Regions from separate parts of the Homo sapiens genome. Here regions 1, 2, 3, 4 and 6 are each reported to be linked to region 5. Evidence: microRNA targets listed by miRTarBase, many of them from high-throughput screens and not tested one by one. Region 5 holds a microRNA gene; each other region holds the end of a gene's coding sequence. Distances are from middle to middle.
What was found. Region 5 holds the annotated microRNA hsa-miR-3714 (GAAGGCAGCAGUGCUCCCCUGU, at 3,261-3,282, shown strand). A microRNA usually pairs through its seed, bases 2 to 8, with sites in the 3' UTR of a target mRNA and lowers its output. Matches are read on the target gene's strand: a 7mer-m8 pairs with bases 2 to 8, a 7mer-A1 pairs with bases 2 to 7 and ends in A, and an 8mer does both.

Region 1: the mRNA of MYOM2 is a reported target of hsa-miR-3714. The part of its 3' UTR that is shown has no 7-base or 8-base seed match.
Region 2: the mRNA of TOM1L2 is a reported target of hsa-miR-3714. Seed matches in the 3' UTR shown: 7mer-m8 at 2,269-2,275 and 7mer-m8 at 1,838-1,844.
Region 3: the mRNA of SRPRB is a reported target of hsa-miR-3714. Seed matches in the 3' UTR shown: 7mer-m8 at 1,157-1,163.
Region 4: miRTarBase lists MTDH as a target of hsa-miR-3714. Seed matches in the 3' UTR shown: 8mer at 1,188-1,195 and 7mer-m8 at 4,713-4,719.
Region 6: miRTarBase lists SMOX as a target of hsa-miR-3714. Seed matches in the 3' UTR shown: 7mer-m8 at 3,838-3,844, 7mer-m8 at 3,779-3,785 and 7mer-m8 at 3,663-3,669.

Annotation. Positions count from the first base shown.
Region 1 is chr8:2,144,594-2,149,538 of GRCh38, reverse strand. MYOM2 (myomesin 2) reads right to left here. Exons shown (of 37, transcript NM_003970.4): 37 at 4,083-4,875. The coding sequence ends at 4,558. Among named protein-coding and RNA genes, the nearest start is that of MIR7160, 70 kb to the right of the region's middle.
Region 2 is chr17:17,843,394-17,848,486 of GRCh38, forward strand. TOM1L2 (target of myb1 like 2 membrane trafficking protein) reads right to left here. Exons shown (of 15, transcript NM_001082968.2): 15 at 118-4,390. The coding sequence ends at 4,242. Among named protein-coding and RNA genes, the nearest start is that of SREBF1, 9.0 kb to the left of the region's middle. RefSeq lists an enhancer at 874-1,394.
Region 3 is chr3:133,818,804-133,823,896 of GRCh38, forward strand. SRPRB (SRP receptor subunit beta) reads left to right here. Exons shown (of 7, transcript NM_001379313.1): 7 at 750-2,689. The coding sequence ends at 963. Among named protein-coding and RNA genes, the nearest start is that of SRPRB, 16 kb to the left of the region's middle.
Region 4 is chr8:97,724,460-97,729,431 of GRCh38, forward strand. It overlaps MTDH (metadherin), which reads left to right. Exons shown (of 12, transcript NM_178812.4): 12 at 141-4,972. The coding sequence ends at 211. Among named protein-coding and RNA genes, the nearest start is that of LAPTM4B, 49 kb to the right of the region's middle.
Region 5 is chr3:16,929,936-16,935,028 of GRCh38, forward strand. It overlaps MIR3714 (microRNA 3714), which reads left to right and starts at 3,261; the gene lies at 3,261-3,325. All of the region lies in intron 1 of PLCL2 (phospholipase C like 2), which reads left to right.
Region 6 is chr20:4,186,229-4,191,321 of GRCh38, reverse strand. It overlaps SMOX (spermine oxidase), which reads right to left. Exons shown (of 7, transcript NM_175839.3): 7 at 3,595-4,052. The coding sequence ends at 3,915. Among named protein-coding and RNA genes, the nearest start is that of LINC01433, 4.3 kb to the left of the region's middle.

The DNA.
Region 1 (4,945 bases), not on the chromosome of region 5:
CAAAATTATTTCTTAAAAATGGGATATGATCACTTCTCTCCCTTTGGCTAAAATCAAGCATAAAAATTAGTCTATGGGCAGTTTTACTTACTTTTGTAAAATGCAAAATCCTTCTATGTCTCATATGAGCTGAACACACTAGCACATTCTCCAGGTAATAAGCAGGAATGAGTTAGTCTGCAAAAAATGTTTGTCTCACTCTTGTTAGCCCTTGACTCCATTTTGGAAGCCAATGACTCCTAACATTGTTAGTTTGAGGAACTATTGTTTTTTTTCATGCTGAGTCAAATTTCCACCATTTACACTCCCACAGACACAACCTTTACTCTCTTGGGCTCAGCATCTCCCAGGAAGATAACTTCTTCAGCTGGGCACCAGCAATTTTTATCTAACGATTCTCAAGAGGTGGCCACAGAAGCTGTTGAACTGATAGTCATTTTTAGCAGCTATTTGATTTATTTAAAAAGCCTCACTTCCACCCCGAAGCCCCGTATTTCATAATCCTGTGAATGTCAAACTCATTCTTTCTGTAACTGAGCTCTCAGAATACACATGCCATCACACACCCAGGACGTGCAGCCCCGATGGAGTCAGGAGACCCCTGGGCAGGTCCCGGAAGGAGAACTGCTCTGTGGAACAGCTGGCCTGGGCTCTCCAAAATTACCCGCGTCACTAATGACCAAGAAGGGTCTTCCAGAGAAGTAAAGCTGTGGCAACTAAACCCAACACGTGAGCCCAAACCGCATCCTGGACTCCAGCTGGGGAACGCCTCCAGGGACATTATCGGGATGACTGGCAAGGTTAGCATATGGACTGCAGATCACGCTGCTGTGTGACGGTCGGGTCCCTTGACTTTAAGAGCTGTGCTGTGGAAACACAAGGGAACACTCTGCTCCTTGTTCTTGGGAAAAAACCAAAGCACTAAGGGACAGAGAAGTGGGATGCCGACAACGTATGAAATGCATTTCCAAATGGCTCTAGGAAAATTTAATTTTTTCACAGAATCAATACCTCGGCAAATGACTCTGTACCCTCCTGGTGTCTTCCCGTTCCTTGTTTTGTGTCATCCTCACAGCTGTCAAATGAAACGACTCAGGCGAAGAGCTCCAACCACGGCCCTCTCCGTGCTGAGCATTCGCTGCCTCCACTGCCACATGCACGGATTCTTAAAAAGCGACGAAAGGGCGGAACCCTGACTTCCTCCAAGAGGGGCAAGCCCAGGACTTCCAGGCACAGGCAGTGGGCGACCTCGATGTCTTTCCAGGTGCTCAGTTCTCCGCATTCTGCCCTGAGGGAGTAGGGGTGATCCGACTGGCATCACATATCTTGAGATATTCATTTGCATAAACACAGCGGCACCCAGATCTTGGCTTCTAATCCCACCCTCCAGTAAAAGGAACCAGGGGTCCTTGGAGAAATGGGTCTAGGACTGGAGCAGGGAACGCACAGATGAGCCTGGGTGTCCTGCAGTGCCAGAAAACCAGGCTGTGCCCAAAGAGGCAGCTGTGAACAGACCCCGGAGGCCGGCAGAAAGGGCTCCCTGTGGCCAACACTGGAAAAACCTGAGCAAGAAAGTAGGCTGGGCGCGGTGGCTCACGCCTGTAATCCCAGCACTTTGGGAGGCCAAGGCAGGTGGATCACCTGAGGTCAGGAGTTCAAGAACAGCCTGGCCAACATGGTGAAACCCCATCTCTACTAAATATACAAAAATTAGCTGGGCATGGTGGCAGGTGCCTGTAATCCCAGGTACTCAGGAGCCTGAGGCAGAAGAACTGCTTGAACCTGGGAAGCAGAGGTTGCAGTGAGCCGAGATCGTGCCACTGCACTCCAGCCTGAGCAACAAAGGGAGACTGTGTCTCAAAAAAAAAAAAAAAAGAAAGAAAAGAAAGAAAATGCATGGCGAAACATGGGTCACATCCCAGAGCTGAAATACAGCACAAGAGTCCATACAGATGTCAGTAAATGATGGGATAAATAAATAAATAGGGAGAGGAGACAATCTTTCTTCCAGAAGAATTGCAAATAACAGAGGTAGATGCTCCTGCTCCAAGAGGTGAACGTGATTCCATGCTCTTGCTTCTTTGAGGGTGGTCTGGGCTGAGACAGGCTCCCAAGGAATAGAAGGAGAAGAGGAAAAAGCAGGCATTTCATGGGAGACAGCAGGCAGACATCACCTGAGCAAGTGATGAAGGTTAGCGGATGTCGGGCACCCCACATGACTCCTCTTCCCAAAAGCACACATCCCCAGTCTCATCACACGAAGATCGTCTTCCCTGGACTGGGGACCTGGATTGGGGAACATCCTACAAGATAACCAGCAAAACTCCTCAAAGCCACTAAGGTCATGAAAGGCAAGGACAGACAGAAACCATCGCAGGACGGAGGGGCTGGGAGACGTGAACAGCAAATTCATCTGGTGTCCTCGATGGGTCCTGGGACAGAGAGAGGGCACTGGGGGAACCCAGCGAGGTCTGAAGGCCACCCGGAGGTGAGGCCATCGTCTCGCCCCACAGCAACGCGAGACGTGAACAACAGGAAGACTGTGGAGTCCACTGGGCTCTCTGCGCCGTTGTAAAGACACTTTACTGCATGTCTAAGACTATTTCATTCTTTTAAAAAAAAAGTCTTTTAAAAAATATTATAACTCAAAACTATGGAGGCAGTAAAATGCTCAGTGGTTGAAGGGAAGATTTTTAGGGCAGAGAAAAGACTGTGCATGATGCTACAATGGTGGACCTGAGTCCTGATCACCCGACCAAACCCACAGAGCCAACAGCACCAGGAGTGTGCCCAGGGTAAACTCCAGCCCCCGGCAATGCTGACGCTTCAGTGTGGGTGCAGCAGTTGTAACAAGCGCCAGAAGCGAGCCCAGGGTAAACTCCAGCCTGCGAGGATGGTGACGTGTCAGTGTGGGTGCAGCGGTTGTAACAAGCACATCCCTCTGGTGGGAGGTGTTGGTAGCGGGGGAAGCTGTGGTGGGGGTAGGGGTTGGAGTGGAGATCTCTACCTTCCTTTTAACTTTGCTGTGAACCTAAAACTGCTCAAAAAGGAGGTCTATTAAAAATAGTATATATGGCTTCAAGAAATTCACAACCATTTGAATTATTTCCCATGAACCACGATTGCTAAACAAAAATGACTGTTTAAACTGGAAAATAAACAAAATCTGTTTAACTAAATCAAGGTCAAACTGAGACTGTCTGCGCCTACCCTTGCCAAGCACGCTTTGGAAAACGCGGCTGCCACCACGCAATAAGAACAAACTCCGCTCAAGTTCATCTGCACGACAGAAAAGGGAGAAATAACAAAAATAAAATTCTTGCTGATACTCACTTTACTGCCATGGAAACCAGCTCAGCCAGCTTTATGTTACTGGGGACATATTTAATTCTCAGGATTTGTATTATTACCTTAGAAAAATATAACAAATTCTCGTAAAATTTGGATTGCCCTTAATGACACAGAAAGGTAAAACATTCTTAATTATCAAAGCTTTTTCTGTTATAAAGCAACAATAAAACTAAAATATTGAAATGGGATTTTTATGCCAGAAGAATTTCAGCCTCTTTCCAAACAAAGGAGGAAAAAGTTCAAAGAGAGGGTATGTTCCTCCTAAACACGTTTTTTAACTTCACCAAGAGGCCTTGTGTAGGCAGCCAAGTTTTTATTTTTCCTCCATGGCTACTGCAGTGATCATTCTGAATGAGTGCCTTCTTTCTTTTGAAATCCCTTCCTAATTCATTAGCACACTAAAAAAGAACAGAGCCATCTTTGCATTTCATTTTCCTCTACAGAGACTTTTAGATCCGTGGTATAATCACTAGGTGGCCTTTCTAAGCCTTGCACAAAACGCACACTTCTTAGGACTGGTGCCGTCTTGGGTGCCGCTGGGGGCCAGCAGCCCAGCCCCGTGGGTCGGAGGGGCTTTGGGGGTGTGATTCACCATGCCCTGCTCTCTGGAGGGTGAGTGCACTATCTGCACCCCACCAGCCGTGAAAGTGCATGATAACCCATAATTAAACAAGCCAGGGGGTGAGCAGGGGCAGGTAGGTGTGATTTGGTACAGGAAAACCACAACAAGGTGATTTTTAAACTTTTATTTGCCTAAAGCAAGAGAAAACAAGCTTAACCAGGTAACACATGCTTCAAAGCCTCGACAGCCAGGATTTCAGAGATGCTAGATCTCGCGGCCCCCCAAAGAGAAGCACGGTGGCTTCACACAGACCGCCACATGCTGCACACGTCCAGGTGCCACACCCATGTGCCCACACCCGTGAAAATTCTAGTGTGTTGTCTGCCAACCCACTCTCTGTCAGGCATCTGCCGTCTACCCTCGTGTAAATACACGTTGTTCAGTCTTGTGGAAAACATTAGCTTTCTCCCTTAGACGGGTATAAAATATTCATCACCAAATGCAAAAATCAAAAGCACAATGTGTGATCAACTATCAGCCCACACAGGACACCACTCGGATGCCAGCTGCTCATTTGGAACAAGCACACAGCATTCCTGTCTCTGCCAAGCATATTTTCCCATCTCCAGGCTAGGAAAACGCCTTCACTGGCCTGCCGCTGAGGCAGACGCGGGGATGAGCTTGGGCTTGGCTTGCTGGGGCGGGGCCATGTCCGGGATCTTCTCCCCGTGTTTGTACACGCTCACTGTCACGTCGATCTTCTCCCCGCCATACTTATTCTTGATGTTGATGCTGTACTTGCCCGAGTCCTCGGAGGTCACGCCTTTGATGGTCATGCTGACGTACTTGGCCTGCTCCACCTTCACCGAGAAGTGCTCGCTGAGCTGGATGTCCTGGTCGTTCTTGAACCAAATCACTTCGGGGTCAGGGTTTCCAAACACCGTGCAGGTCAGATTCAAGGTCTTTGGACGGAAGAGGTTGGTGGAGAAGGAAGAGTTAGAAAAAGGAAAGTCATGTCACCCCCTCGGACGG
Region 2 (5,093 bases), not on the chromosome of region 5:
CTGGGGAAGGGTGGACTGAGGGTCCCCATGGCCACCCCTGCTTAAATAAAGCAGGTGGTCAAAACTGGCAAGCCCTTTGGACAGTCGTAGCCAATTCAACAGACCACACAGGCATAATTTGTTCAATTATTTATTTATTGTGGAGTATTTTACATGCAAGAACCCAATTAGAGAGAGGGTATCTGGAAGGAGGGCCAGTGGGGTGGATGGATGCTCTGAGCCTCGGGTGCACTGACCCACCCTCCAGAACCAGCTCTGCCCACAGAAACACATGACAGTGACAAAAACACTAAACTTCTAGGACGAGTGGACAGCAAACGCGACATTCAACACATTCCTCTTTTCAGTAGCCCCCAACAATCCTGAGAATCCTCACAATTAAGTGCAAACTTTAGGAAATAAATATCCGTCCCCCTCTCCGGGAGAGCCTGGAGGTATGGACAGACAGAAGCAGTTCTGACTCGGGGGCTGATGGCTGCTCCCTATGGCTGGTGGCCGCAGGGGAAGCCTGACTTGGACCCCACAGATAGGAAGGGCTGGTGACGGGCACTGGGGGAGGCGAGCACTTCAGGGGCTGACAGACAATGTCTCTGGGGTGGAAACACTTCTCTCTGGGTGGGGAAGGCCTACTGTAACCCAAGTGGGTGAGACGTCCCCAAAGCCGACAGTGCAGAAGCTCCCAGGGACCACTCCAGCAGTGCCAGAGGCTGAAGCCAGGCTGCAAGCAAGTGCTCCTCCACACTGCTCTTCCAGAGCTGCCCCAGGGGCTGGCCTGGCCCCAGGTGGGCCCATGGCCTACCCCAAGCCATCCAGAAGGCTGGGCCCAACTGAGTTAGAGATGCGTGTCTGCGGGGGCCCAGGGTGGGGTGTGGCAGCGGGAAGGAGGGGGGCAGGAGCGTGAGCATCGGCAGCAGCTGCCCTGCGAGCATCTGTTGCCCTTGGGCCATGTGGAGCCCTTGCCCCAACTCTCCGGGCTGGGTCCTCTCCTCCCCAGGGGCTGGAGTGACAGCACAGGCCCCAAGACCACCAGGTGGCATGGTGGGGTGGTGGGGGAAGGCTAGTGAACCAAGGCACCATCACTCACATGGAGGCGCTAATAGAAAGACAGGAGGACAGACGGATGGTCACCTTTCCCTCTAGCCCAGGCCAGCAACAACCCCTTGAGGCTCCAAAGCTCCTTGTCCCATGCACGCTGGTAAGCGAGCCAGTCATTCTCTCAGCCTGGCCACAGATGGCCTGCTCAGTGCCTGGAGACTGCCCAGGCAGGGCTACTCTGCAGCAGGCAGGCCAAAGGCCCATGGTGCCAGGGGCCCAACTGCACATAGCGCCATTCTCTGCCGCCCAGTGGCCAAAAAGGTAGGCAGGAGGGAATGGTTAGTTTTCACATCTCAGCAACAATGAACGCAGAAAGGGTTAAACACATTCCCAAGAAAATATTTTGACAAAATAAATATTTTAACCTATAATCAGGTATAATTAGTGCTTATAAGGAATCCCAGCAATAATTTAGTGTAATTAAGTATATACTGTATCTGTGATTTCTAACACTCACGGAGAGGCTGGTGGGCCTTGAGAGTCCAGGTTTCCTGACAGAGCCGCACCCCCTTCCTGGACCAGGCAGCCTAAGGACTGTGCTCCCCAGATGGTGGGGTCTGGGAGCAGAGATCTCAGGACAGGCCATCTCGCCAGGGCTAAGTGGAACCCACTCTGGGGCACCGGGGCTATACTTGCTTCCTGTGCAGGCCTCAAGCAAGAGCCCCCTCTGCCTACAGGTGGGGCAGGCTACCTCCGGATAGGAGGTGCAAGCAGGCCACCTGAGGGGTGGCTCCAGGCTAGGAAGGCAGGTGACACTTGTCAGCATGGCCAATGGCCTCCTGCCAGCCCATACAGGTCCACCACTCCCTGCTGCCCCTGGGGCAGCCAGGCCTCTCCAATGATGCCTGGCAACCAGCTGGCGCTGGCGCTGGAGCTGGAGCGGGGCAGTTCTGGGAGTGGGTATGAAAAACAGTTTTGCTGGGGGCTCCCCAGGAGGGCGCCTATTTCAGCTTCACGCACTATGGAATCCCTGCTCCTTTCAGAGCCTCCAGGCTCCTGACTTTTTGGGACTCCTGGTTCCATGAGGCAGGGAGGCTGGCTCTTCCCTCTGAGGACACTGGGTCTGGGATGCAGTGCTGAGGCTGCGGAGCACTGACTGCCCGAGGTCGGACCGCCCACCACCCGCAGGCCCAGCTCTGGCAGGGCCTCAGAGACAACCCAAGTCACAACCCAAAGGCAGCCAAAGGGCTGGGGCCTCTGGGTGCACCTGGGCCATCCCAGCCACCTTTTCTGCAGCTCAAGTGAAGCCAGCTAACTTCAGCAGTCTTCACATTCAAGCTGGCCTCAGGGGGGTCTGTCTTTGAGAAACATTGAGGAGGCAGGGGCTCATCAAGCATCAGGGAGCAGAAGGCCCAGGCAGGTGTGGCATGTGCTGCCAGAGAGGACAGGGCTAGAATCAGGCTGGCCACTCCACGGAGGAGCTTCCTGGGTGAACCTGAGCAACTGGAGTGAGACATCCCAGCTAGTCCCACCCTCAGCCAGACAGAGGTTTCCTCTCTGGAGGGAGCTGGAGGGCTGCTAGCCTGGCACAGGGTCCTGGGTCGGGCAGCACTTGCTCTTCACTGGAATAGTTCCTGTTGGTGCTCAGCATGACCCCCAGCTGAAGTCGCCATCCTGAATGCTCCCCAACGACCATGTCGCTGGTCTCTTCTCCCGTCAAGCCCAGCCCCCTTTCCCTGCTTGGCTGGTGGTCTGGGCCGTCCTGCCAGGTGGGAAGGGCTAACTACACCATGGATCAGGAACCTGTGCTGACCTAGGCAGTGCATGCTGGAGGGGACAGGAGCAGACTGACCCAGCGAGCTGGGCCCAAGACACACGGGGATGCATACAGCTGCAGTATTCTCCTTCTGAGCAACAGCAGCCTGGTGGGAGGTGTGGGGCCAGGTGTCTGGCTGGACCAGGGCCTGGGATGACCCGAGTCCCTTGCCCATGGCCAGGAGACACACCAGTGAGGACACGGGATGGGAATACATGTTACCAGCCCCTAGCTGCTCTGCCTGCCTTCAGGATCAGCTTGGGGAGAGAGTATAAATTGGTGGCCAGAGGACCTCTGAGGTGGGAGGAGGCCAGACTGTCAGGAGAGTCTGTGCAAGGAGGCCAAGGCCTATGCCAGGGAGCAGAGCAGGGGCCTTAGTGCTGCCCAGGCCTCTCAGTCACTGGGAACCTCCAAGGATGCCACAAAGCTGTTTGCTGCTGGCTCTTGAGGCAGATGTGTGAGGCTACGGCAGGCCAGGCCACAGCACTGAGTGTGGCCCATGTGCACATCTGTGACACTTCCCCAGGCAAGCCAGAGCAATACCTCCAGTGCAAGTCCCTCCACAAGCCAGGACCAGGTGTGCGGGTGTGAGCCTGCAGTGTGTGCGTGGCAGTTTGGTTTATTGGTAGTGTCGTCTCAGCAGCGTGCCACATGGCCACCATCTGCGGGCTGCCTGCTGCCCTCCCAATTGTCCTTGGCCCTCTCCCTGCCCAGGGAGCCTGCAGGGACCCTCGGTGCCAGGCTCGGCTGCTGAGCCAGCTTGGGTGTGAAGCCTGGGCTGGCAGCTGAATGATGGAGAGAGGGTCAAGAAGGTGAGAGACCCCCACCATGGAGACCCAGCAGAGCCTTCTCAAATGCTGATAAGCCAAATGTCACAAGGTGACAAGTCCAAGGAGTGAGACCAGGCCCATGAGTGCAGCACACCCTGCTCTTCCAGAGATGCCACAAAGCCCCTTCAGGGAGAGAGGGGCCCAGGAGGGCAGAATGCCTGAGAAGGTCGCTGAGCCAGGCAGAGGTGAGCACAGGGCGGGGCCGGGCGTGCTCTTTCTCCATGGGCGGGTGGAGGAAAGACAGTCCGGGTGGTCTGCTCAGGAAGCACTGCCTGGGGCTGGGCCACTCTGCCCGCTCTTCCTGGGAGGAAACATGGGCAGAGGGGCCCATGGTGGGAGGGGAGAGAGTCTCTGGCTGCAGTTGTCCCACCACTCAGAGAAAAGAAGTGGCTGAAGCTGGTCCTGACTAGTGGGAGGCCTGGGAGCAGACACGGTGGCATTTCCATGGAAACACAGGTGTGCAGGCCGTGTGGAGCTGGGGATGTAGGAGTGGCCAGTGCCCGGTGTCCACGGGGTGCGAGCGGGGACCCGCCATCTGGGGAGGCAAACCACAGAGCTGCTCACAGGGCGAAGAGGGCATCCTCTGACCGCTCTGGCTTCTTCCGGCCAGAAGGGTTTGAGGCTGGGGCAGGAGCCTCCATGGGGGGCGAGGGGAGGTCGGGAACCATTTCAGCAGCTTTGGCTCTTTCTTCAAGGAATTTATCAAACTCTGCAATACAAACCAAGGCAAGGGTCAGGGTTGGTGAGGGCAGGCCACCAGAGGAAGCGCACCCTTCCACTCCCCAGCCCGTTTCCTCCTCTAGGGCAGGCATGAAGCCCACCTAGGAGCAGGTGGGTAGGGAGGGGTTCGTGAGCTGCAGTGTGGGGGGAGGCTCCTGGCTGTGCCCAGTCCTCCTGCCCTGGAGGGAAAGGCTCTGGAAAACACAGCCCAGAGTGCTCACCCTACCGCTGACCATTTTCCAGATCAGCACTGGGTTTTGTCCATTTTCCAGATCAGCACTGGGGGTGGGGCAGGGTAAGCTGGAGGGGCCAGCTTCTGATTAAACAGGCAGGAACCATCCCACCTACCCCACCCTTGCCCACCAATGGAGGACTGAGGAGATGCTGAGGAATGCAGTGGGGAGGGGGGAGTGCCCCATTTCTATGGGCACTGAGAGCTAGGGAGCAGGGTCCTCTGAAGTTTCCCTCCCTGCGGAGCGGTCTGGCCACAGGGTCTGGCAGACCTGGGGAGAGGAGGACAGGAGCACGGAGAGGCAGATGGAGTGGGGCAAGATGAGCTTGGGGAGGCAGGATGTGAAGGGCAGGGGATGTGGGGGTGGCCATGTGGGAGAACTAAGACCCCGCTGCTCCCATCCAGCCCATCAGCTGAGGCCCAGGAGAGGCTCCTCCCTTCTGGCTCAGTGGCCCAAGGG
Region 3 (5,093 bases), 120 Mb from region 5:
GTGTGTGTGTGTGTGTGTGTTCCTTCCTAAACAAGGTATTGCTTAGTTTTGCCTGTGGATTCTTCACTAATTTTGAAGCAACTTTACAGAACAAGAAATGCTTTATTTTGTAAGAAAGAAGATTGGCAGCATGTATTCCTCTGCTTCTGGATAGCAGAAAGGGGAAGGGGAGGCCGACAAATGAGTGTTGCTTATGCACCCTTTATTAGGGCCAGCAGGTGGCAGTAAGGGGACTTACATTGGGAAGGTTTTGGTGGTTAAAGAGGTTGGATAATAGTAATTCTGCCCTAGTTAGATATGAGAATCTGGAGTTGGTGGATTTCTAAACTCCATATCCAAATAGACTCAAGATAAAAATACATACCCTATCTACCCACACTTAACTTTCAGAAACTTATGTTTTTATAACACTTAAAGCATGTATTTTAAAAATATATTTTTAGACGGCTTCATTCAGTAGATCCTCTTAGAAGGGGGCCTTGGGCTGAAAGAAAGTTGGTGTGACCTGGTCTACTGCTGACCTGCCTTCTAGCCCTGTGAGGTCTGACCCCCCCAGCCCGCCCCACCTACCTCACCTCTCTGTCCAAGAGAGGGACTTATAAATGCAAAGGATTATTCAACAATCTTAATAGCATAATTGGCAATTCTATAGTTAAGTTTTAAATGAGTGCTGAAATGTTTAGAAACTAATATGATTTAATTGCTGTATAAAAATTTTGCCTCCTGACTTCTTTCCTTTTGCCCCACAGCAACACCTTACGAGTTACCCGTTCTGCTGCCCCCAGCACACTGGACAGTTCCAGCACTGCCCCTGCTCAGCTGGGGAAGAAAGGCAAAGAGTTTGAATTCTCACAGTTGCCCCTCAAAGTGGAGTTCCTGGAGTGCAGTGCCAAGGGTGGAAGAGGGGACGTGGGCTCTGCTGACATCCAGGACTTGGAGAAATGGCTGGCTAAAATTGCCTGAGAGGCAGCTCTAAAGCACAAGACCTGGATGTGTGACACACAGTTTTGGAAAAAGGTCTGTGGTAGTCTGGAGTTGATGAGGAAGGGGTACAAGATGTGGTTAGAAACATTTCTTTGTTCTGGAAACAAAGTACTGTTGAAACCAGCTTGGAATTTTTTTTTTTTTTTTTTTTAAGTTCAGTTCTCCCTTATGGCTGCCTTTCAAACAAGTACCTTTTATCTGATGCCTGTATCTTCCCTTTGTTAAGGTGTAACTTGATGTAGGGTCAAGGTTTTTGTGACAACAGGCAGACTCCACACAGAGAGGATATGATGAGAATATGGCCATCACCTGAAAAGTTTTCTTATCTTCTGTGCTTTTGGTCCCTGGAAACAAATCCGCCTATGTATGAAGCTAGTTGATTTCCAGTTGCACTATTTCCAGTTGCCTCTGAAGTTCACAGGCAATACATTGTCTAGTCCTTTGCGAATTTCTCTGATTTGTGGGCACAGTTATGAAGTTTCCCCACATGTGAAGACAGGTACAAAATAGCAGAGCCAAGCAGACAGTGGGTCTATTCTTCATTAGCTCAGTGACTTGTCCACACTCGTCTTAGCACTTACGTTTCAAAAGCTTGTCACAAACCCTTGGAGTCATTCCCAGATAATAGAACTGGAAATGATAAATCCCCTAATGCCAAGGGTCTAGTGTGTTCTTAGTGGTTATACTGGGAAGTGTGTGGAGATTTAGGTGCTGCTCTGCTGCTCTGGATGGCTGAAGGCTCCTGGGCCATCTTCATGTGCTGCTTGAAGAGCTCCTATTTTGTACTCCTGGCTAGAATGCTGTGGAACAAATACAAAGTGAAAAAAGTTCTCTGTAGATTTCTGAAGTGCATATTCATTGATGCCAAGAAAAAAAAAAAGTTGCCTTTTTGAAGTGATGTTTTTTGCTGTCTTCTTAAACACAAGGCTTTTTTGAATGATTAGTATATTTCATGGTAAAGAAAACAGCCTGTCTGGCTCAAAGCAATTAAATAGAATGTAATGGTGAGTACAAATGAGTGCACATGTCAGGACTCAGGTCTAACTCCTTGTCTCCTGAGCCTAAAGATTGCAACATACACAAGAACACACTCCTATTCCTACCCCACACACTCAGGGACAAGCCCAACTAAAGCTTACAAGGAGACCAGGGTGGCTCTGTCCAGGGGAGAAGCCAGTTATGGAACAGTGCATTGAGAGCCATGGTAGGAGAGGCCCACAGTTCTCTGGAGCATGCAGCAGGGGCACCCCACCTGGCCTTGAGGATCAGGGGGAGTCAAAGGATAAAGCATGGGGCTGATGACGTCTGAGGGAGTGTGATCCTCCATGTATGGCCTCTGCCTGCTGTCTCACATGTCCCTTCTGGTGGTCACTTGGGCTCTAGGAGTATACGTCACCTCAGACCATCTGGCAGAAATACTCCAGGCTCCTACCCCAAAGCACATGTCAGCCTTGCTGCTGGAGCACGAAGACAATGTAAATGAAACATGAAATGGAGGAGTTGTGAGACCCTGACCCTGAGTCCTTACTTGAAAGCTGCTGCTGGTGTTCTGAGTGTCTTTTGGACTCTTATTTCTTGCCCTTTTCCTTATTAGGCAAGCAGTAACTTAGGAAGTAGGTAAGAGCAATAAATGTGACATGTTATGTCATCATAGTAGGAGCTCATGGGAATAAAAGTCAGTGGCTTGATGCTTCTGTTAGAGGCATGTGTCCCTCTCAGCCTCTTTTATTTTTTTCTGGTTAATATCTTACTTTATTGGAGGAAGCAGCACACCAGAAAAAGTGACTGAAGAAGGGCTGCAAGTTTGAGTTTGATTCAAGGCCTAAAGAAGGTCTTCCAAAAAAGGATAATTCTATCTGGAACACTGGTCTCAAATGTTAGTGGGCATCAGAATTACCTGCGATGCTTGTTAAACTGATTTGAGGACCCTACTCTCAGACAATTTGATTCAATAGCAAGTCTGGTATTGCCTCAGGAATCTGCATGCTTAATAAGTCTTTTGTCAGTCGCATGGCACCCCTAGAGATGATCTGGCCTGGAGTGTCACGTGTGCCTTTACTTTGTTTTTAAAGTCTCTTGGGGCACACACCCTGCTGAGTTTTTCTGACAGGGTCAAGTCAGCAGGCATGGGAACTCTGACCTTGCTTCTTACTCCTGTACTAGTAGCAGGCATTCCGTTCTTGTGGCTTTGGGCCAGGATGAGGTCATGGTGACTAGTCTTTGGGAACTGGGAAGGGTTTTGATGGGAGGTCAAATGTGCTCTCTCCACTCAGGTGGTGCCCTTTTGTGGCCCTGAGGGCATTTGACTAAAGTAGGCCCATTTCATGAGATGGGCAGGTGTGGCCAGAGTAGAAGGATGGATGTCAGGTCTTGGAGACGGGCCAACTAGGCACGACTGTATGACATAGATGAGACTTTTGAGCTTGAAACACCTTGGGAACATGGCAGTGTATGGACACCGAGACCTCCTAGGACAGCAGCTGCCTAATGCAAATGACCCTGTTCCCTGCTAAGGCTGCAGTGAGATGCCCTCATGGAGGGGCAGCTGTGATGAGTGAGCCCCAGGCACTCTGTTGGTGAATATGTCCACTTCTGGAATGGAATCTCCCTAGTGGGTATGGACACGGGCAGACCCAGAGGGGTCTAAGCACTGCACTGTTTCTTCCTTTGGCTCCTCTCCAGTCCGGGCCTTGGTAGCCTCTCCACTACCAGGTGCCTGACAGTCTACTGGGGGTTCCTAATCAACAGCAGCTGCTGTTGGTGGGGAGTCCCTGGGGTCTGTCACTTCTTCCCACTGCCTCTGTCTCAGTGCCTCCTGGGCTGTCAGTGTTCCCCTGTGGTCCTGCCTTGTATGAAGCGCTGGCCATGCTCTGTTGACTTAGATCATTTCAGCCAGTCTATGTTTTTTCTTGTTTTTGAAGTTTTGGGTTCAGCACAATTGTCAAAGCTTCAGTTGGCTCATGCCTGTCCTCACCTGAAGGCCATCAGTGGCAATTAAGATGCCTATCTCTTTATCTCATCCCTTCACACATTTAAGGAAAGGTGATCACCCACCTACCTTCATTTAAATGCGCAGGAAAACAATCCCACTTCCCTTCAACTGTAAACCTCGAGAAACTTGACTGCTCACAAGAGCCTTGTACGCATTTATCCATTGGGTAAAGGCCACGCCTTGCAGCAGACCATGGAAATACTAAACAAAACGCAATTCCTGCTTTAGAGGCTAGTAGCCCCATTCTGAGGTTAAGAAACGTGCCCTTTCAGTGTGGTTTCCCTGCTCTCTCAGTAGTGTGAGCTCCATCACTGCTGCACTTGACTCCTAAGCGCTGTGTGGGCTTGTGGTCAGCTGCCAGCCATGCAGCCCCAACGGGACTGCCACTTTTCCACTGGCCTCTGAAGTGCCAGTGTTCCCATGATGCTGATGTGTGAGGCACATGGCCATGTTCTGTTGACTTGAATATATTGTTTCAAGGGTTTTTTTGTTTTGTCGAGACAGAGTCTCACTCTGTCGCCCAGGCTGGAGTGGCAGTGGTGCCGTCTCGGCTCACTGCAACCTCTGCCTCCCGGGTTCAAGTGATTCTTCTGCCTTAGCCTCCCCAAGTAGCTGGGATTACAGGCCTGTGGGACCACTCCTGGCTAATTTTTAGTAGAGATGAGGTTTCACCATGTTGGCCAGTCTGTTCTCAAACTCCTGGCCTCAATGTCTCTTCTAATCAAAGATGGCTTCCTTGAGGTGGCAGCAGATTGGAGGGTGTTCTGGAACCTTTATAAGCTTTAAAAGGAAAGGTAATTAGTGAAGTTGGACTTGAAGAAGAGTGAGATTCCCGGGCAAGGGCAATTTACCTAATCTTGGCCTTTGTTCCTCTTTGGATTGGTCCCAGGACTGTGCTGGCTTTCTGAGCATCTTTTAGTCTGGAGATAACTGAGACCTGGAGGGGCCACTCAGGGATGTTCCTAACTGGTGTGGTGTGGGGCTGGGGATGGAATATGGCAGCTAGATGTTGTCAAAGGTCATTATAGTTCACCTTAAGTTCTTGCCTTTAAATGGCTTTCTGAAAATCACCAGAAGCATGAGAGATCCAGTCCCTGTACCCTCTCCCCCCTTCCTA
Region 4 (4,972 bases), not on the chromosome of region 5:
ACGAGGGCTTGAAAACTTAAACATAAAATTTGAGTATTTTAAAACATTGTTTCATAGTTACTACTTTTATATTATTGAGACGTAACAGTATTTACCATCCTCCTAATTTTTTTCTTCGTTTTCCCCCTTTTCTTTTTTAGCCAAGTCTGAAACTAGCTGGGAATCTCCCAAACAAATAAAAAAGAAGAAAAAAGCCAGACGAGAAACGTGAAATTTTTTTTCCTGAATTGGACATGTGTTTGCAAACACTTGTCTTGAAGATTATGCTGTTTATGCAATAATTTGTGAACATGTACAGAGTTTTATATAAATTTAAACCAATTTTTAAAACAAAACTGCGGACACCACCATAAAAATGGAATCAAAAGAAAGTTAATTTATGAAATTAAGAGGTCAGCAGAATATACTCAGTGATGGAAGACACTTGGGAAAGTCTTTTTAATAGAACAAGAACGATCTTAATTTAAGAATATTATCCTGGTTTAACAACAGTGCCCTGTTTACAACAGATTGTGCCCTATCTCATCTGCAGCCGAGGAATAAAGGATTCTGATTAGAAAGAGGGTTGCCTACAGATTAGTAAGCAATTCCTTGGATCTTATGCACAGAACTTGTACCATTTGAATCTGTTTTATGCTTAAATCAAAGTGCTTTGATCAAATGCATAACCTGCCATATCTTTACATATTTGTTGGTAGCAATTTGTATTAAAGAAATCACAAGTGCAAATAAAAAGTCATTTATCATTTGTTTAACTAAACTGTCATGGTTTAGTTTACAATTTTTAAAAAGTTCTTAAAATACTGAAAATGCAGTTGACACTTGTGTATGGCTTATGAAGTTATTTTTGATAGTCTTACATTACTTGAATTGTTCAAAGTACAGTATATTTTAAATTAAGAAAAGTGAACTATATGTATTTGTTTTATACATTTAAGGCTTAGACTCATAAATAATGCTATTGTTTATGATTTGAAAACTTTCAGGCAAAATCCAATTTACATTTTTCCCTTCCCTAGCAATTACTTTTTTCCAGCTTCAACTCTTCTTAGTTACTAATACTTTGTTGACTTTAAAAATGAAATCATTCACAAACTTTTGGTATATGATGGAGAATGAAAAACTAGAGTCAGACAGCTTTAATTGACATTGTCAACACCTCCAGTTATCAGGAATACATTTTTTTACTGCCTTAACCTGTAGTGCGTAGAATATGCATCAATTTCTTGAAGGAGATTCATGTTTTTATAAGAATTTTCATGTAATTATTGCAATTGTGGTCAAATAAGGAACGTTTCCTGCTTGAAATTATATTGATTTAAATGATGTGTGAGATGTTTCACCATTTTCAGGCACTGTGTAATTCTATTGTAATAAACTGGCAGGTATCTTTGTAACTATAAATAGTGCATGCTCAGCCATGTACACTGTAAATAGCCTTTACCAAACGTGTTTGACAAGGACCATAATTAACATCACTTAGTGAATTGTGATAAAGAAAAAAAAGCCATGATTTATTCGATGTGATTGGCTTGTTTTTATGTGGCGCCAAGAACGAACCTGTTTAACAGCTGTAACCAATGGTACTGATCTATCCATCCAATGTTGTCATTATATTTGACTGTGGTTCAACAGTATTGCGTTGTCAGACTAGGAAAGCTAAACGAACAAAATGGTTTTAGTTTTGCTGAAGACTGGCCTTATTAATGGACAGCTTTCCTAACAAGAGATTATTAACTTTTATCAGGTGTTAACATCTGTTTCAGGAACATGGCAGTATGTTTACATGTCAGAAGTTTTGTTTAATTCTATGGTATTTCTAAATTGACTTGTTTAAATAAATTCAGCAAATGGATAGCATTGTTTTTTATTTGCTTCAATATGGGGGTAGATAATAGCTAAAGAGCCAAGGATGAATTTCTTCAAATGACTTTATTCTGTTAGCTTTACATAGGTGTTGGAGGATTCCTAAGGTGTCAGCATTTTGTAAAGGTACCACAAAGGAGAAGTTGATAGGGAATCTAATTTTAGAATGTGCCAAATGGTCTGTGCTCAACAATATAATTGAACTCTCTCAACTCTACCTCACCATTTCTTTATCTCAAAATTCTGTTGGCTTTGTCAAACGTTGGATTTTATTTCTGCAGCCTAGTATCTCCCCATTCTACCACCTATGCCAGATGTTAAAGACAGCAGATGTTTTGAGGAGAATGGCATTGTGGAGATGCAGAGATGCGTTGCTAAGTTGAGGTGGATCCAGTATAGAGATACCTCTATTTCTTCTTTATGGCTCAAGAGCTAGGACTTGGATTTTGTTTTAAGAGATGGCAGCTGGCCGGGTGCAGTGGCTCACGTCTGTAATCCCAGCACTTTGGGAGGCCGAGGCAGGTGGATCACGAGGTCAGGAGTTCAAGACCAGCCTGGCCAAGAGGGTGAAACCCCATCTTTACTAAAAATACAAAAAAAAAAATTAGCTGGGTGTGGTGGTGGGCTCCTGTAATCCCAGCTACTCAGGAGGCTAAGGCAGAGAATCATTTGAACCCAGGAGACGGAGTTTGCAAAGCCAAGATCGTGCCACTGCACTCCAGCCTGGGCAACAGAAGGAGACTCCGTCTCAAAAAAAAAAAAAAGATGGCAGCTATATAAATGATAAAATTAATTACATTCTCTTTCACATGCATGAGGTGCAAACTCTGTCACAAAGTATTTTAATTACCTTTTACCTTGTTTCATAGATCTTTATGTGACATAAAAACAGTTTCTGGCACGGTGGCTCACGCCTGTAATCCTAGCACTTTGGGAGGCTGAGGCAGGTGGATCACCTGAGGTCAGGAGTTTGAGACCAGCCTGGCCAATATGGTGAAACCCCATCTCTACAAAATTTGCAAAAAGTAGATGGGTGTGGTAGTGGGCGCCTGTAATCCCAGCTACTCAGGAGGTTGAGGCAGAGAATCGCTTGAACCCGGGGGGTGGAGGTTGCAGTGAGCTGAGATCGCACCACTGCACTCCAGCATGAAAGAGCGAGACTCAATCTCAAAAAAAAAAAAGTTTCTGGCACCTGAACAGGAACTGGTTTCCATCATCAACTCAGAAAGCACTAAAATCTAGGTGGTGATTCAGGGAGGAGCAGGGGAAGACAGCCTCCTATGGTGGCATGAATAAGATGCTTCCAGAACTAGTAGGGAAATAACTAACCTCTTCAGGCTTTATCAGGCCTGGAGGGGAACCTTGCTCATGTTAGCAAGAAAGGTATCCTAGAGAAGCCACTCAAAAGGCTCCCTAATCCAGCCTGTCTCCACATACATACTGAAAATTCTTCCCTACTCTGAGGCAGGGTGTAGTGGTTTAGGGGTTTCTCCAGACTGGAATCCTACCTATCTGTACCGACAATTGAGCAAACAACAGTTGAGAGAGTCCAAAAAAAAAAGTATTAAAATGTGATTGATGTAATTTACCATGTTTACTTTATGCATGCATTTTATTGGGGAGGGGAGGTCAGAATAATTCACCCAAATCTAGTGGTCTTATTTCATAGGCTAATCTGGTTTATATTTGCATTAAAGATACTGGAGGGCAATATTTACAGAGTTTAGTTTTTCTTAATTAAAAACAGTCCTCTATTAATATAGTGTGAAATATCTTTCAAAATTTAGAGTTTAGGTTTAAGATGTCTACTAGATATCTTTAAGATTTTCCTGTAAACTCACTGCACAAACTGGAATTACTTTCCAAAAGACTTAGGGAATGCAAATATGTTACTCATAAGATGCATTGAGTATTGTAAATAAAACAAACCATTTTTGATTTGTTTAAATTGCTCGTTACAGTTCTCTTGTGGGGAGGGACTTTGTCAGTCATTTTGCATCTTAAGCTAGACTAAACTTTTTGTTGTTGTTTTCCTAAAACCATAGGTGCAAGCTTTGCCGCTGGGAAGTCATATTGAATTAAGCACTTTTGAAAATGTCACTGTTTGTGACACACAATGTTCTCTACAGAAAACTTCTTCTATCTTATGTCATTTTAGCAGTAGATGTAGCTGCCTGCCACCAGGTGCAATATGTCATTTGCATCAGCCTTTTCAGTTAAGGAAATTAAAACTTGGCATGCATTAGTTCATATGTATGAGGTTGGCTGTGTCCCCAAACAGCAATTGCTTGTACAAGATAGAAGTTTGCTTCTCAGCTGGGCATGGTGGCTCATGCCTGTAATCCAAGCTCTTTGGGAGGCCAACGCGGGAGGATTGTTTGAGCCCAGGAGTTTGAAACCATCCTGAGCAATAGAGAGACCCCCATCTCGACAAAAAAAAAAAAAAAAAATTAGAAACAAAAAAAAGATTGTTTCTCTTTCATATTAAAGTTTGGGAAGGCAATCCAGAGCCCATATGACATTATGCAGGGTCAGGGATCCGGGTTCTTTCTATATTGTTCCTCCCCATTCTCAACCTGTAGCTTTTTTTTTTTTTCTTTTAATGAGATAGGGTCTCACTCTGTTGCCCAGGCTGGAGTGCAGTGGCACACTTCTGGCTCACTTCAGCCTGGAACTCCCGGGCTCGAGCTATATTCTCCCACTTTAGCCTCAGCCTCCAGAGTACCTGGGACTACAGGTACACACCACCATGCCTGGCTAAATTTTTTTTTTTTTTTTTTGGTAGAGATGAGGTCATTGCTATGTTGCCCAGGCTGGCCTTGAAGTCCAGGGCTTAAGTGATCCTCCTGCCTTGGCCTCCCAAAGTGCTGGTGTTACAGGTGTGAGCCACCACACCTGGCCAACATGTGGCTTTCAGTTCTTACTTGAAGACAGCTGCTCTAGCTAGAAACTTCCTATCGGCATCTGAGCCAGCTGGTAGAGGGCATTACCTCCCCCACCCCCAAGAACACTTCTTGGAAGTTACACACAATACATAAACTTCAATTTCAAACAGTTGCTTGGTCCCACTAGCCATGAAGCTGGATGGGACGTAATATTCTATCTG
Region 5 (5,093 bases):
CTTCTCACAGGCTCTCAGAGAGTCTTGGGAAGACAGAGGCCTCTCTTTTAGACATGGAGAAGTATCGTGGGAGGTGAGTTGCCCAAGGACACACAAGACTCCTGTGACTTTCAAGTTAGAGTGGTATTGTGCAGCCAGAATTCGCCTGGCATGGCTTCTGTCTCAGAACCTAGAACAGTGCTCTTCTGCAGTAAAGATTCCTAGTTTATTCCCTTTTCTCTTAGTATAAAACATTTAATGTGGGTTAGAGTATGTTTTTTATTATTTCTCCATTTAACTTGAGAAAGCAACCTCATGGGTTCATATTTTTGTTTCCCTCATTTTAAAGACAGGCGAGATTTCACGAGTAGATGAAAGAACACCCAAATTTGAGGGAGCGTTCCAAGTTCATAAATACTTGTGGCTGAGAGAAAACAATGGCCCTCCCTCAAATACTGCAGGGAAGAACCAGTATTGGGAACAGCTGTGTTTGAAAGTCTCCTAATTGTTATTTATTCTATCTGTAGATCTATAGTCCAACCAATGTATGAATAGGACCTTTGCTGATTATATCTCTGTTTTGATCAGAACTGCTATAAATGAAAGAGTTGTAGTGTACTGTTTTCTTAAACTCCTAGGGTTTTACCACAAATCAGAGTTGTTTCTTGTGATACAGCCTTCTTCAGCCTCTGTTCGTCTCTAAGAAATTGAACCTAGAGTAGTAAACAAGTGATACTTCTGTAAACTCCCTAAGGGATGACTCCTCAGTTCTGTGAACCCCATCATCCCTCCTAATCTCAAGTCGCTTATTTTCTTATGCTTTGTGGAGCTCTCCTACAAGCACCTGAACTCCAGCATGTCCCAAATGTTATTCATGATTTTCTCCTTAAGTCTGCTGCTCCTGCATGAGTTCCTATGTCCATTAATGACATTCTTTATGACACAAGCAAGAAATCTTGGCACCATCTTTATCTCCCGTTTTGCTAACTCCCGTGTACATTTGACTACTCCATTTTCCAAGATGATATTCTAGGCATGTCAGTCTTCTATTTTTTCCTCTGTAAAGGCAGGTAGTAGGGTAGGATCCATATCTGTAACTCCAATGCCTTCTGCTTGGAAGATAATGCTTCCTGCTGGCCAGTTCCCATTCCTCAGCCCAAATACTACATCCTTGGCAAGCCATTCCTCTCTGAACCTCCTTCCCAGGAAGATGCATTCACTTCTTCCTCTGGATTGCCATTTATTTTTTTTTTTAACTCTAATGCTCATGAAACTTTGTGGTAAAATTTTATTTGAAGGTCTGGCTCTTCTGCTACATTCTGAGATCTTTGAGAGTAGGAACCCAGATTGTACTTAGATCCGTGTCTGGCACATATGTAAGCACAAAAGCTATTGACTATATTTAAGTGACTTGAATTAGAAAAAGATGTATGAAATAGAAGAGGAACAATTAAATGCTTATTTGTATTTGATCTCATTTTAGTCTTTTTCTCTTCCCATTTCATTCTCTCCTCTCCCTTAGAAAAAAAGCACGTAAATGTTCTGTTCCTATAAAAACAATTTAAATAGAGACTTTCTTTATCAGCAGACAGAATAACCTGGTTGCATTGTCAATGTTCTGTCTAAATGAAGTTTAACTAACAACTGTTGCCTTTAAGGGATAGAAAAGAAAACCTCACAAATATTATTTATAGAGAACATGCATTGGTCTTAGAGTCTGAGGGTCCAGGTTCCAGTTCGGTTGCTGCCATTTATTACGTGAATGACCCCAGGCAAGTCTCTTTTTTTAAGGTTCAGTTTTCTCCCTTGCAATGAGAATAACACCTCCCTGACAAGGTTATTTTAAGAACTTGATGAGATGTTGGATATGAAAGCATCTTGTATAGGTAAGACACTAAGTTCTGACATAGAATAAACTTATGATTGCATGTTTGTATCCCTGCAAAATTCATACATTGAGATACAATCCCCAGTGTGATGATTTGAGATAATTAGGTCATGAAGGAGGAGCCCTCATGAATGGGATTAGTGCCCTTATAAGAAGAGGCCAGAGAGCTAGCTCACTGTCTTTCTGCCATGTGAAGATATAAGGAAAAGGTGGCCATCTGCAGCCTGGAGAGGGCCCTCACCAGAACCCGACCACACTGGCACCCTGATCTCACACTTCCAGCCTTCAGAACTGTGAGAAACAAATTTATGTTGTTTTAAGCTACCAGTCTATGGTAATTCGTTATGGCTGCCAGAATTAGGATAGCTCTTAATTTTTAGTTGAATCTGAATTTATATGTATTTCTTAGGCCTGGATTTGAAAACCATTCTGCTATGTGGTTTAGGTAGTATCAGCTGTTAGCATACGCATTGTCTCAAGGACTAACTTTTCAATATCTATCTTTATTTCAGGTTAGTAACATCCTTTGTTTGGGAATAACATGCATATTATTTCATCTGATGTTTTCCTAAGACAATTAGATTGAATTTTTTTCTTCTCACTTAAGCATTTTGGAGTACCATTAGTCCTCTTCCATGTCTTAGATAATATTGAATTCAGGGTGTACTTTTAAAAATCTTGGTAGTTAAATTTAGCAGTTTTGTTTGGAGGTATTTATTTTCATCTTGGTAATAAGACAAGAAGTAAGATGTTTCATAATTACCATATTTTGTTTGGGATTTCTGCTGAATTTTCTCTCTCTCCATTGCAGTTCTCTTTTTGGAGAGGTCCTTCTCTCTACAGCCATATGCTGGTAGATAATGCACGGTAGCTGATCAGTGCTAGAAAATACAGGAGATCCAGAGCATATTACTCCCTTGAACGTATCTTTTAGCTGCAGGGAAAACAGATCTAAGGCATGAATTACAACTTATTAGTTGTAGATGGACTCTGTAGCCCAGTACTGATTAAGAAGAAACAGCCTCACTCTGTCTTGCCATGATGGCTGTTCCAAGTCAAAGGAAAAGGAGAAGTCTGTTGGAGAAGATTTTCTTTCTTTTTTCCTTCTTCTTCTTTTCTTTAGTTCATCCATTCATTTATTTTCTAATATTATGGGACACAAAAGCAGAATTTGTAGTTAGTACTCTTGGCTGTAGAAATTCGTAGTTTTGCTTTTCCTTTAAGGTTGATTCCAGCACCACTTTGTGAGAAGAAACTGTCATAGTTTCACATTGCCTCTAAGAAAATGAAACGTACCTAAGTATTATTGGACAGCCGGAGTATTTTACAGTGGTTGCTGCTCAGGAAATTTGAGTGAAGGACTGCAAAAGAGGAGCAAAGCAGACCCGAGAGAGAAGGCAGCAGTGCTCCCCTGTGACGTGCTCCATCACCGGGCAGGGAAGACACCGCTGCCACCTCTCCACAGCCTTGTTCAAGAGCACTGGAAATTGTAAGGTGTTTGTTTTGTTTCATTTTGGGAGTGGTGGAAGATTAGCCTTTGTGTTTCTCCTCTAAAGAGTTTTGTCTAAAACGCTTACGACTACTTAGTTAAACAAAAATCCAAAGTAAGCTATCATTGAAATATGAAATATACTAACAAAGCCAAACAGTAAAAGATTATACAGGGAAAGTCCTTTCTCCCCATTTTGACTTCACCCACTCAGTTTCCCTTCCCAGTGTCCTTCCAGAGAGATATTTGACTCATGAATCAGCACATATATTCATATGCCTGCTTTTTCATACACTGTAGCAGCATACTAGAATATTGTTCAGCATTTTTATTTCTTTTTTTTTTAACCTTACACTATTTCCTGATGTTTTCCAAGTAAATGTTTTATTTTTTTTCTTATGGTTGTGTAGTATACATCCATTGTGTAGATGGATGTGTAAAGTACACATCCATTGTATAGATGTGTAATTTATTTAGCCAGTTTCTTGAGGAATATTTAGGTGTGGTGGCTCATGTCTGTAATCCCAGCTCTCTTGGAGGCTGAGGGGGGCAGATCACCTGAGGTCAGGAGTTCGAGACCAGCTTGGCCAACATGGTGAAACCTGTCTCTACTAAAAATACAGAAATTAGCCGGGCATGATGGTGGGTGCCTGTAATCCCAGCTACTCAGGAGGCGGAGGCAGGAGAATCGCTTGAACCCAGGAGGCGGAGGTTGCAGTGAGCCCAGATTGCACCACTGCACTCCAGCCTGAACGACAGAGTGAGACTGTCTCAAAAACAAACGAACAAAAAAGTCTTGGTGTATGAATAAGGAAAGGAGCCCTAGATATTGGGCATGCAAAGGCTTTTGTGTTCTCTGAAAAGGTCATGCAATGATAGAAGTGACCCGAGACACCTGTAAACTGATGACCCACAGTTAAATCCACATAATGTGGCCAGTGCTGTGGTTTTGGGTAAGTGCAGGATGCTGTGGACAGTGGGTGCCTAAGAGCTACATTTCACTCAAGTGCTGGAGAAGCAGGAGAGATTGACCCTAAGGAAGTTCCTGCTAAGCTGAGCCCTGGAGAATGTGAGGAACATAGGTTAGGAAAGGGTAGAATAGTGTGAGGAACTGTGTTCTAGGAGAGGGAACACCAGCATGCCCAGAGATCATCATGGCCCGTTTGAGCTTCAGAAGTGTATCTGTTGGCAGTCTGGAGAGGAGACTGGCAAGGTAATCAGGCATTGGAATCACCGTAGCTCTCCATAAGTGTCAAGGAGGTTGGACATAAGGCTATGGGAGGCCAGTGAAGACCTTTATCAGGAGTGGGAGGTTATTTGATTTGTGTTTAAAAATCTCATCCTGCCTGCCAGGTGGAGAGTAAACCGGAAAGGGATGGGATGCTATGTAGGAAGCTGTTGCAGTAATCCAAGTGAAAGGTGATGGTGGCCTGAACTAGGAAATGGCAGTGCAACTAGGAAGAAGTAGACACAGAAGAGCTCTTCAGACAGTGGAATCAACAGGAGTTAGCAATTTTGAGACGTGGGCATGGAGGCAGAGACCCTCAGCCCTCTGGTTGTTCACTTTTAACAAAAAGATTATGTGCAATGCATTTAACATATTATTCTTGCATCTTTATGAAACCATCCTCATTATTTCTTTTGGACAAATCCTGGAAGTAGACTTGCTGAGTCAAAGGAAAGATCTTGAAATATTTCAATAATGTAGTCAAATTGCCTCCAGAAAGGCTAATACGC
Region 6 (5,093 bases), not on the chromosome of region 5:
TTACTTAACTTCTCTGAGGTTTCACTTGCCCACAGGAATAAATAAAGCCTGAGTTGGCATCACTGTCAAATCAGTATCACATTCACATGGCATAGTGCCAGGCAATTGGCACTAAGTGAATATTCTCTCCCTCCCTCTTACCCACCCATGAAGCTCCCTGAAGTGCAGTCACCAAGTAAACATTTCCAGACCTTTCACCCCACCATGGAGTCCTTTAAAATTCCTCTGCCTATACACTGAGAACCTATTTATCACTTTCTTCCCCGATACTTATGTGATGGGGCTGCTTGTCTCCATCCCACTGCAGTGGATGGGGAAATCCAACAACTGAGGAGTCAGAAGCAGACAGCAGACTATGAGTCATGGAAGGTAACAGGTAATAGAAGGTGGCTTCCATAAAGTGACCCTGGGCCAGGGAGGAGACAGACATGCTTTGACCAAAGTAAGGTCCAAATTTACATTGTCTGCTTATGTACCATTACAGAAAGATGTCCAAGACATATTGTGGGTTTTTTTGATTTTTTATTTGTTTTTCTGTTTGTTTTTGAGACAGAGTTTCACTCTTGTTGCCCAGGCTGGAGTTCAATGGCGCGATCTCGGCTCGCTGCAACCTCCACCTCCTGGGTTCAAGCAATTCTCCTGCCTCAGCCTCCCGAGTAGCTGGGATTACAGGTATGCATCACCACACCCGGCTTATTTTTTGTACTTTTAGTAGAGACAGGGTTTCACCATGTTGGCCAGGCTTGTCTTGAACTCCTGACCTCAGGTGATCCACCCGCCTTGGCCTCTCAAGGTGCTGGGACTACAGGTGTGAGCCACCGCGCCCAGCCTACAGGACATATTGTTAACTAAAACAAGCAAAATCAGGACAAGATGAATACTTTGGTGCTTTTGTATAAAAAGGAGGGAGAAGAGTGTTTTTATATTGACTTACATCTAGGAATGGATACCCCTAGGGCTGTGGGAGAGGCAACAGTGACTGGGGACACTGTGAGAGGGAACATTTCAGTGTATTGTATCCACGTGGACAGCTTTTGGGCTTAAACTACATGAACAGATCATCTATTCAGACAATTTTTCATATATAGGCTGGGCATAGTGGCTACGCCTGTAATCCCAACACCTTGGGAGTCCGAGGCGGGTGGATCACCTGAGGTCAGGAGTTTGAGACCAGTCTGGCCAATATAGCAAAACCCCAACTCTATTTAAAATAGAAAAATTAGCTGGGCATGGTGGTTCGTGCCTTAATCCCAGCTACTCGGGAAGCTGAGGCAGGAGAATCGCTTGAGCCTGGGAGGTGGAGGTTGCAGTGAGCCGGGATCATGCCACTGCACTCCAGCCTAAGCAACTGAGTGAAACTCCGTCTCAAAAAAAAAAAAAATTCATATATATATTTAGACATTTTTCAGTTATGCCAGCAGGTGGGTATGAATCCCTTGATATAAGCTCCATGAAGATTTCTGGCAGATCAACCCTGGCAAAGCAAAATGTCTGTGAGGTTTGTGCATGTAGGTGTGTGTGCGTAAGTGGATGCAGGTAAGCATGTGTGTACGTGTGTCTGTGTGTTAGACATCTCCATCACAACCTACCAGCCTGGGCAATATAATGAGACACTCTCTCTACAAAAAAATAAAAATAAAAATTAGCCAGGCATGGTGGCACATGCCTGTAGTCCCAGCCACTCCTGAGTAAGGAGGATCATTTAAGCCCAGGAGTCTGAGGCTGCAGTGAGCCATGATCGCACCGCTGTCTCCAGCCTGGGCAACAGAGTGAGATGCTATTTCAATCAATCAATCAATCACCTGGGAGGAGGAAGGGGCTGTCATGTCCTGTCAAGGGCAGGGCCCTAAATGTCCATGAAGGGGACCTGACCTAAGCTCTTCATAACTTCTCCCCATCACCCCACCCTTCAACTCTGTAGAATTCAAATTTCATCACTAGAAATCTAGGATAACAAAATGACTAACTGTTCTTTAAGATGACTGGGGACAGTGTGAATGGGGACATTTTAGTGTATTCTTATATAGCTTTTGGGCTTAAACCACATGGACAGAGCCATGTGGATCTGAATTCAAATTTCATCACTAGAAATGTGGAGTAACAAAATGACTGTTCTTTAAGGTTCTGTGTGTGTGTGTATGTAGGTAGGTATATGTGTAGGGTAGAGAGGTGAGTGTATGTAGGTGTGTGTACCTGTATATGTCATGTGGGTTATGTGTAAGGTGTAGTGGTGAGTATATGTAGGTATGTGTACCTATATATGTGGGTGAGTATATATAAGGGGGTAGATGTGTCTTTTTACTCAGCAAAAAGAGAAGAAAAAGAAGTTTTTCTTTTTTAAAAGACATCTGTAGAGATGGGGTCTCACTGTGTTGCCCAGGCTGGTTTCAAGTTCCCAGGCTCAAGCAATCCTCCTGCCTCAGCCTCCCAAATTGGTGGGATTACAGGCATAAGCCACCATGTCCAGCCTAGGACCCTTTTCTAGATGCCTAGTATGTAAAGGAAAGTATTGATTGCTTTATATTTGGTGTGTGAATTATTCCTTAATACTGAGAAGCTTGACAGCTTACATGTAAAGGATTACAAATAACACCTTCTTTTATTTTTCTGAGACAGGGTCTCACTCTGTCACCCAAGCTGGAGTGCAGTGGTGCAATCATGGCTCACTGCAGCCTCAGACTCCTGGGCTCAAGTGATCCTGCCACCTTAGCCTCCCAAAGTGTTGGGAGCACTGAACCCAGCTGACGAGAAGAAAAATCTATTCCCCAATAAATGGCAGGCCTTAGGATATTCCCCCTGTCAAAAAATAAAGCCCAGAATGACCATCTGCCCAGAGGTTCAAAAGAAGGCCACCCCAGGGGCCAGACCCACAGCCCAGTGGACAGGTGACGCTAATTAACAATGAACAAGCCAGGTGCGGTGGCTCACCCCTGTAATCCCAGCACTTTGGGAGGCCAAGGCGGGTAGATCACCTGAGGTCAGGAGTTCAAGACCAGCCTGGCCAAGATGGTGAAACTACAAAAATACTAAAAATACAAAAATTATCCAGGCGTGGTGGCGGGCGCCTGTAATCCCAGCTACTCAGGAGGCTGAGGCAGAGAACTGCTTGAACCCAGGAGGCAGAGGTTGCAGTGAGCCGAGATTGCGCCATTGCACTCCAGCCTGGGCGACAGAGCGAGACTCCGTCTCAAAAAAAAAAAAAAAAAAAAAAAAAAACAATGAACATACCTAGGCTTGGCATGGAGCCACCACCACTGGGGGTCCCCCCCACAGAACTCCTTCACTCCAGGCAGTGTGTCACTCAGTTAAACTCAGAGAAGTCCAGCAAAAAAAAGGGCCAGCAAGCAGACTCAGGCCAGACCTGAAGGAGCAGGTGTACACTGAGAGGCCCGTATTCCTGAGGGGCCTTACTGGCAGGAAGGTAAACACCCCAACAGATGGGGGGAGGGGACATCCCTTCCAGTAAAAGCAGCACCTTCCCTCTGGGGACACAGCCAGGCCAGGGCTCCCCAACCTTCTCCCTCTCACTCAAAGGCGGTGTGACAGAAATAAACACACACACATACACAGAGGCTGAGAAAACCAGAGAGAAGCTGAGGGGCAGGGGAGGGAGCCTTTTTTATTATCCCAAAATGCAAAGTATTGAAGGCACTTACAATAACAAGGCAGGACAGAGGGTAGGCAAGTGGGGGCACGGGATCCAGCACAGAGGTAACTCAACGGCCCACCTGCTCACGGCCCAGCCTGGAGAAAAAGAAAAGCTACAGGGCCAGGTCTGAAGGCAGTCAGGGCGGCTAGCTCTACAGAAGATAAAAATCCTTTCTACAGAGGATCAGGAAGGCAGGAGCACACGGCAGCAAGGGGCAGGCTGGAGGTCACGAGTTAGTGGCTCTTCTCAGCAGCGAGGACAGCCCTCAGGTCCCCTGCTGGAAGAGGTCTCGGTACATCTCAATGAGGCGGGCAGCCTCACGCTGGCCGGACAGCAGAGCACCGTGGGTGGTGGAATAGTACTTGCGGTGGGTGGCCTCACCGGAAAACAGCACCTGCATGGGCTGCGGGGCGGGGATGGGGAGGTCAGGGTGGAGGAGCAGCAAAGGCCAGAAGGCCACAAGGCCACCCCTCTCCACCAGAACCTCCCATCCCAATGACAAATTAGAGAGGCTCTGAGACGCAGGTGCTGCTGCTTCCACAGGATGAAGAGCTGCCCATCCTATCTGGCCACTTTCCCCTGCTTCTTCCCTTGGCTCTTTCTGTCTTGAGGCCATTAGGAGTCCCGGCTCTGTGGTCTCAAAGGCTCTTTGTGCCTCTTACTTGTCAACTTGAGGCAGGTGGTTTAACCTCCCTAAGCCTTGCTTTTCTCATCTTCCAAATGGGTTTATACCACCTACTTCGGAGGGTGGTTGTAAGGATTAAGGGAAATCATGTATCTAAAGCACTTAGAACCTGGAAGAACAAAGCACTCAATAAAGTCGGTGGTAATTTGACAAACCTTTACGGCGCCCCTGTTAGCATCCAGGGGCTGTTCTGGGCACTTGGAAGAGAAAAGGTGACCAGGCTGCTGCTTTGTGGAGCTTCCATGCTGGTGAGGAAGCCAGACATGAAACCCAATTACTAAACAGCGTCATATGTGATGGAATGGGTGTTTGCACAAGGCGCCGAAAGCCCAGAAAAGAGGCCCAGTGTCAGGGGATCCCACAAAGCTTCCCAGAGGACAGGACCTTTGAACTGGTTCTCGGAAGATGCTGAGTGAACGGACAGGCAAAGGACATTTCAGACAGAGGGAAAGGTGGGGGCAAAAATGTACCAAAGCAGGCCTTGCTCGGGGGACAGTGAGAATTTTGGTACAGCCAGGGCTCGGCCTTGAGAAAGCAGGCTGTCTAGGTGAGGTCTAGGCAAGGTACAAGTTCTTGCACCCCAAGTTTGCATTTGGACTTTATCCTAGTTCCTCTCAAATTCAAGGTGCAAGGCACCAGCTGTGGATCCTGATAAAATGCAGTTTTTATTTATTATTTTTGAGACAGTGTCTCACTCTATTGCCCCAGTTGGAGTGCAGTAACATGATCACAGCTCCACTGCAGCCTCAACTTCCTGGG